2 separate regions of the Homo sapiens genome follow, and region 1 is linked to region 2. The links come from fine-mapping of genetic effects on gene expression. A gene starts in region 2. The other region holds a variant in brackets. All regions are shown on one strand. Distances are from middle to middle.

Region 1 (3,004 bases), 29 kb before region 2:
CTGGGAAGGGCTACAAGAGCAGGAAAAGGCACCGTGGCTTGAGGCTGCACGGAGTCTGGGCAGTGCTTCCCGGGAAGTACCTTGGGCAGAGCCCAGCTCGCAGTGAGCGCTCACAGGCGGAGCGGCTGCTGGTATTGCCCCCCGTCTTCATTTTCTTCCTAAGATGACCGTGAGTGTTGTGTCAGAGAAAAGGATGGCACTGGTGAAGGTTAACCAAGCACCTGATATGTGCCAGGCCAGCTCCTCTCCCGGTCCCTGAAGCTTTTCTTTTTTTTATTTTTTTTTGAAACAAGGTCTCATTCTGTCACCCAGGCTGGAGTGCAGTGGTGCCATCTGGGTTCACTGCAGTGTCCACCTCCCAGGTTCAAGTAATCCTCCTACCTCAGCCTCCCAGGTAGCTGGGACTACAGGCATGCACCACCATGCCTGGCTAATTTTTGTATTTTTTGTAGAGATGGGGTTTCGCCATGTTGTCCAGGCTGGTCTTGAACTCCTGGGTTCAAGCGATCCTCCCACCTCCACCTCCCGAAGTTCTGGGATTACAGGTGTGAGCCACCCTGTCTGGCTGAAGCTTTTCTTTTCTGGGTCTTTTTAGCAGCTCTGGTGGTGCCTGGATTGTAGAGGCGAGCTATGGGCAAGAAAGTCAGTCTGGAGCGGGTCTGCCCTGGCAAAGGGCCTGCCCCATTAGCTCCATCTTAGGGTGGCACATGGAATCCCCATCACCTCACTGGCTGCCCTGCCGGCCTTAACCCGCCCGTGCATCCTGGCCATGCCAGCTACCTGTCTTCCAAAGCTCCTGTACTTTTGCCCAACAGGGCCTTTTAACAAGAGGTCCAGGAGCCCCCAGCTTTGGGTACCACATGTGCCCGTGGCTTTTTTCTGAGGCGAGGCCTGATGGCTGTCATGCTTCAGCTGCCTAAAGGGACCTGTGACCCAGGCACTCTGAGGCAGGCCCACTACTTCAGCCTGCCCTTCCGGCCCCGAGATCTGGATCCCACAATGTCATGATGGGGAAGGTCCGGGGTTCAGGCGGCAGTTCAGTCTGTTCTGCCCCACTCGCTCCCCGCCCCCTGCCCATGTGACATCTGGATGCTCCCGCGCTCGGGGTTATGTTTGTGCAGGAACACCAGCTCCTGCTGCTACCTGGCCCACGTGCTGCACAGGCACTGAAGGTTCACCTGAGGGCCACACCATAGTGTCGGGGCCAGCCAGAGGCGGGTGGGGGACAGGGTTCAGGGCAGGTGGGGCCAGCTCCACCTTGATGACTTGGAAGCTGAGGTGGTAAATGTTGAGTGTGATGATCTTGTTCTCGTTGGGGGCTGCCATTTGTTTGAGCCTCAATTTCTCATACAAACGGGGCATATTCTAGGGCAGAGGCAGGCAGATGCTGCTTGTGAGTGCTAGCCCCAGCACAGGACTTCCTGCTCTGTAAGTGGGTGCTTCCTGGCGGCTTTGTCACTCCTCCCTGGT[C/T]TAGGGGAAGGAGCCAACTTGCTTGGTTGCTCTTGAGAGCTGAGATGGCTCTAGGAGCGGGGCATCCCAGAAAGCGGACTTCAGCTCAGTCTTGGGGAGGAGCCTCTGAACCTCCATGCTTTCTCCTCCAGTGGCCAGGGCCGGGACCCCGGCCTGACGCCTGCCCCTCCTCTCCCAGAGCATCATCTACTACGTGAGCCGCTCACCAAAGCTGGAGGTGTGGCTCAGCCATGAGGGCATCACGGCAGCCCTGAGGCCTGTGCGGGTGCCCGGCTATGCCGACTCGGATCCCACCTTCTCGCTGAGTGTGGATGAGGACTATGACCTCCGCCTGTCTGGCCTCTCGCTGCCCTCCTTTTGTGCTGTGCACCTCGAGTGGATCCAGTACTGCGCCTCCCGGCGCAGCCAGGTCAGGCTCCACTACCTGAGGCTGCCACCTGGGGCTGTGGGACCTGGGCTTCCCTGCTCCCCTTCTCCCCATTTGGTTTCCTCTCACTCTGAGCCTCCCTTAGCCTGAGCCCCAGCCCCCACTCCAAGGTCCCTGTCCCAGGTCTGAGCTGGGCTCTGGGATGGGGGTCCTTATGCCACAGCCCGTGGACCAGGATTGGAACTCCCCGCTGGTCACGCTGTGTTTTGGCCTGTGTGTGCTGGGCCGCCGGGCCCTGGGGACAGCCTCTCACAGCATGTCTGCAAGGTGAGTGCTCGGGTGTCCCGCGGGGCCTACTGCCGTCCCCACCCCACCTCTTCCACGAAGAGCACTGTGGTCTCTGGCCACAGTGGCCACAGAAACTGCAGTGGCCCTTCCTGTTGGGGTACCTCTTCTCCCACGGGCAGGGCACTTCCTGGTCATGACCTTGCCTGCTCCTCAGTGCTCTGTGAGAGACATGGGCAGAGATTGGCCTCTTTGTCAAGATGGGGAAACTGAGGCTCAGCGTGAGGAAAGGCCTCTGCTTGGATCACTCTGAAGCCTTACCCCTGGGTCCTCGACACCCCTCTCTCCCCTCCCTGTTTTTCCTCCCACTTAGCCTGGAGCCCTTCCTCTACGGCCTGCACGCCCTGTTCAAGGGGGATTTTCGCATCACCTCCCCACGTGACGAGTGGGTCTTTGCCGACATGGACCTGCTTCACCGCGTTGTGGCGCCTGGGGTTCGCATGGCCCTCAAGCTTCACCAGGTTGGGGAGGGGTGTGCCCAGCAGCATGGGCAGGTGGGGGATGAAGCCTCTCTCCAGGGCAGGGGCCACTGACCCCTGTTCCCGTCTTCTCTACCAGGACCACTTCACGTCCCCAGATGAATATGAGGAGCCAGCAGCCCTATACGATGCCATTGCGGCCAACGAGGAGCGGCTGGTCATCTCACATGAGGGTGACCCAGCATGGCGCAGCGCCATCCTCAGCAACACGCCCTCCCTGCTGGCGCTGCGCCATGTCCTGGATGATGCCTCCGACGAGTACAAGATCATCATGCTCAACCGGCGCCACCTCAGCTTCCGAGTCATCAAGGTTGGGCCGGCCCCACCTGCCCTAAGCCCTGCC
Region 2 (2,723 bases):
TGGTTTTCTTCCTCAAACAAGAGACGTGACTCTGAGGGACTTGTCCTTCCAGCTACAGGGGTCAGGAATTCAGAAGTGATTAGGGACCCATCCGTATCCCCTGGAACTCATCTGCTAGAGTAAACGTACAAATAGATAATTTCAAGACAAAGGCAGTTTACTTGCAGAGCTGAGTCAGGGCAAGGAGTGAGGAATTCTGCCCTGGGTCCAGAAAGGAGTAACACTGTAGCGGCTACTTCATAGCCCGCCTCCTGTCCCCTCATGCTGGGCCTCCTAGCCTGCAGGGACCTCACCTGTGGATGCAGCGGTCCGGGCAGAGCTCAGCCTCATAGAAGCCATCCCGGCAGTCCTTTCCTACAAGCTCGTGGGGGTGAGGCCGGTGAGGAGGGTCCTTGGTGACCAGGGAGATGCGCACTGTCCCTGGTCCTGTGTAGCCATTGATCTGTCCAAAGTACAGAGGCCCAGACATCCAAACCTGACTCCCAAACACAGAGGGCTGGGGTTCCACAGTCCCTTCCCCGCACACCCTGGCGCAGTGCTGACCTTGATGGTGGGGTGGGTCTTGGTGGTATCTGTGCTCCTCTCGCCTGGGATGCTGCCCGCGGAGCGCCCCTCGCACTTGTAGCGGAAGCGCATGCCCCGCTGCTTGGGCTGCTCAATGATCTCCACATAGGGGCCAGAGGCCTGGGCTGGCTCTGCCAGGGGACACCGCAGCCCCATTAGGCGGCTGCCCCCACTGCCCTACCCCAGGGAGCACCTCCCCGACCGCCGCGGGGGCCACTTACCTGCCGGGAAGATGAGGGGGAACAGTTCTGAAAGGGGAGGGAGATCAGGGTCAGCACACACCCAATGCCCATTCTCACAAGGAGGAATCTGCTCTCCACGGAGAGGAGAAGCCAGGCTCCCTCCCAGGGGAACTGAGTCAGGACCTGCTCCCTAGAACCTGCGGTGAAACTAAGGGGTGGAGGAAAGGAACCAGAAACACCTGCTTCTTGAGGGAAAACGGGGTAAGGAATCCTTCTTCTCCAGAGGGAAGCTGAATCAGGGCCTGTTGTACTTTCTTAAGGAAAATTGAGGGAGGGCACGCCCCACCTCCCTCCAGAGAGGAAACTGAATCAGATGCGTTCTCCCCTAATAGGGAAACGAAGCCAGAGCTGCCCCCATGGACGGTGTGGAGGGAAACTGAGTCAAGGTTCCCTCTGCTCCCCCACCCAGGGAGGATGCTGAGTCAAGGGCCACCCCCTCCACCCAGAGGGGAAACTGAGTCAGACCCCTCCCCGCCTGCCCCGCCCCGCGCCACCATCCGGCAGGCCGACCGCTCCCTGCGCAGCGCCCGTCGGCGCAGGAAGGGGCGGAAAGCGGCGCGGGGGCTCCCGCCACAGCCGCGGCGGCCCCGGCGATGCCACCCCGCGGGGTCAGAGGGCGACCTCACCGTCCATGGCCGGGGTCCCGGGGGCGGGGCCGGGGTCGCAGCTGGGCCCGCGGCGTGCACTACAGACGAGCCATTCGCCAGAGGCGGAAATGCGCCGCGCGGCCCGCCGTCGCGTCACTGCCCGGAATCCGGCCGCGCCTGCGCGCTGCCCCGCCGCCGCCCGGCGCAGGGGCCGGGAGCAAGTGCACGCCGCGCGGAGGACGAAGAGGCTGCACGCACAGCCGCTGCCGGGGGTCGGGGCCAAGTGCGCGCCTCGCCGAGGACGAAGAGGCTGGCGTGCCCGGTGGCTCGGCTAGCTCCCGGGTCCCGGCCCCGCCTGGAGGGTGGGTCCGCCGATTACTCACTTTGTTTTTAGGGGATTTCAGGGCCCCCTCCCGCCGATCGGCGGAGTTTGGTGATGTCACTCTGGGCCGGGTCTGGAGCAAAGCCAGGGCTACTGGGCTGCGGCCGCCCGCCCCGCGCAGGGAAAAGCCCGACCGGGCCTTCTGCTCCGCAGAGGCCGGGTGGTTGAACTCCGCGCGGGTTTCCTAACCGCTAAAGGTGCCTTTCGGTGGTGGCTGTCTCAGAAGCACGTTAAAATGTCCTACCCACCCCAATCTAGATGCGGCTGTGGGGGAATGGGAGCGGCCGGACCTCCCAGCCTGACAGTGCATCAAGAGCTTTGCGGAGCCTACAGCCCGGATGGGACGACTGAGGCCCTCCCGCTGGCGAGCTGGCCGAGGGCTCGTCCCTCTCCAGCTAAAGCGCCAGCTTACGATACAGCCAAACTGCCGGCTCTCATCGGCTGTGGGAGCAGGAGGCCCCCAGGGGTAAATCCCGGAGCCTCGTCTCTGAAGCCTGGCGCTTGTGTCTCAGAAGGTGCGGGACCCACAGGGACACTTGAATCAGCAGGCTCACGACCCCCCACCCCCCTGCCCCCGCCTGTGTTTGCCCTGGACCTCCAGCTAGGGCTGACCACTAATTCTGTCATGTGACCCCACAGTGCAGGTAGCTCCCCCAAGACCAAGCCCAAGGCGCGTCCGTGTGGAGGCTGGGGCTGACGCACCCCCACCCCAGGCCTCATCCCCAAAGGAGGATGCTCCACTGCAGGGGGCGGAGTCTTCTCCAGATGGAGAAAGACTTTTTTATTTTCTCTGAATTCGTCTTAAATTAGGAAATCATGTGGGAATTGGAAAAGATTGGAAATTCTGACTTGTTTCCCAGGCTCTGAAGAAACAGGAAGAGAAAAGTGAAAATAGAGTTAGCACCCCGCCCACTCATTTCAGTTTCTCCAGTGGCTGGCCCTGATTAG

Evidence for each region. PIP is the estimated chance that this variant, and not a neighbour inherited with it, causes the effect. A credible set is the group of variants that fine-mapping cannot tell apart.
Region 1: its variant is the best candidate, but not a certain one, in a credible set for the expression of RELA-DT in whole blood (INTERVAL, PIP 0.57).

Annotation. Positions count from the first base shown.
Region 1 is chr11:65,632,478-65,635,481 of GRCh38, forward strand. PCNX3 (pecanex 3) reads left to right here. Exons shown (of 35, transcript NM_032223.4): 28 at 1,649-1,879; 29 at 2,061-2,164; 30 at 2,496-2,643; 31 at 2,741-2,971. Among named protein-coding and RNA genes, the nearest start is that of MIR4690, 2.3 kb to the right of the region's middle. The variant C/T (reference allele first, on the strand shown) is at 1,471.
Region 2 is chr11:65,661,394-65,664,116 of GRCh38, forward strand. It overlaps RELA-DT (RELA divergent transcript), which reads left to right and starts at 1,613. Exons shown (of 4, transcript NR_183625.1): 1 at 1,613-1,755. RELA (RELA proto-oncogene, NF-kB subunit) reads right to left here and starts at 1,523. Exons shown (of 11, transcript NM_021975.4): 1 at 1,433-1,523; 2 at 786-812; 3 at 544-695; 4 at 294-442. The coding sequence starts at 1,439. RefSeq lists silencers at 1,210-1,269, 1,330-1,739 and an enhancer at 1,830-2,029.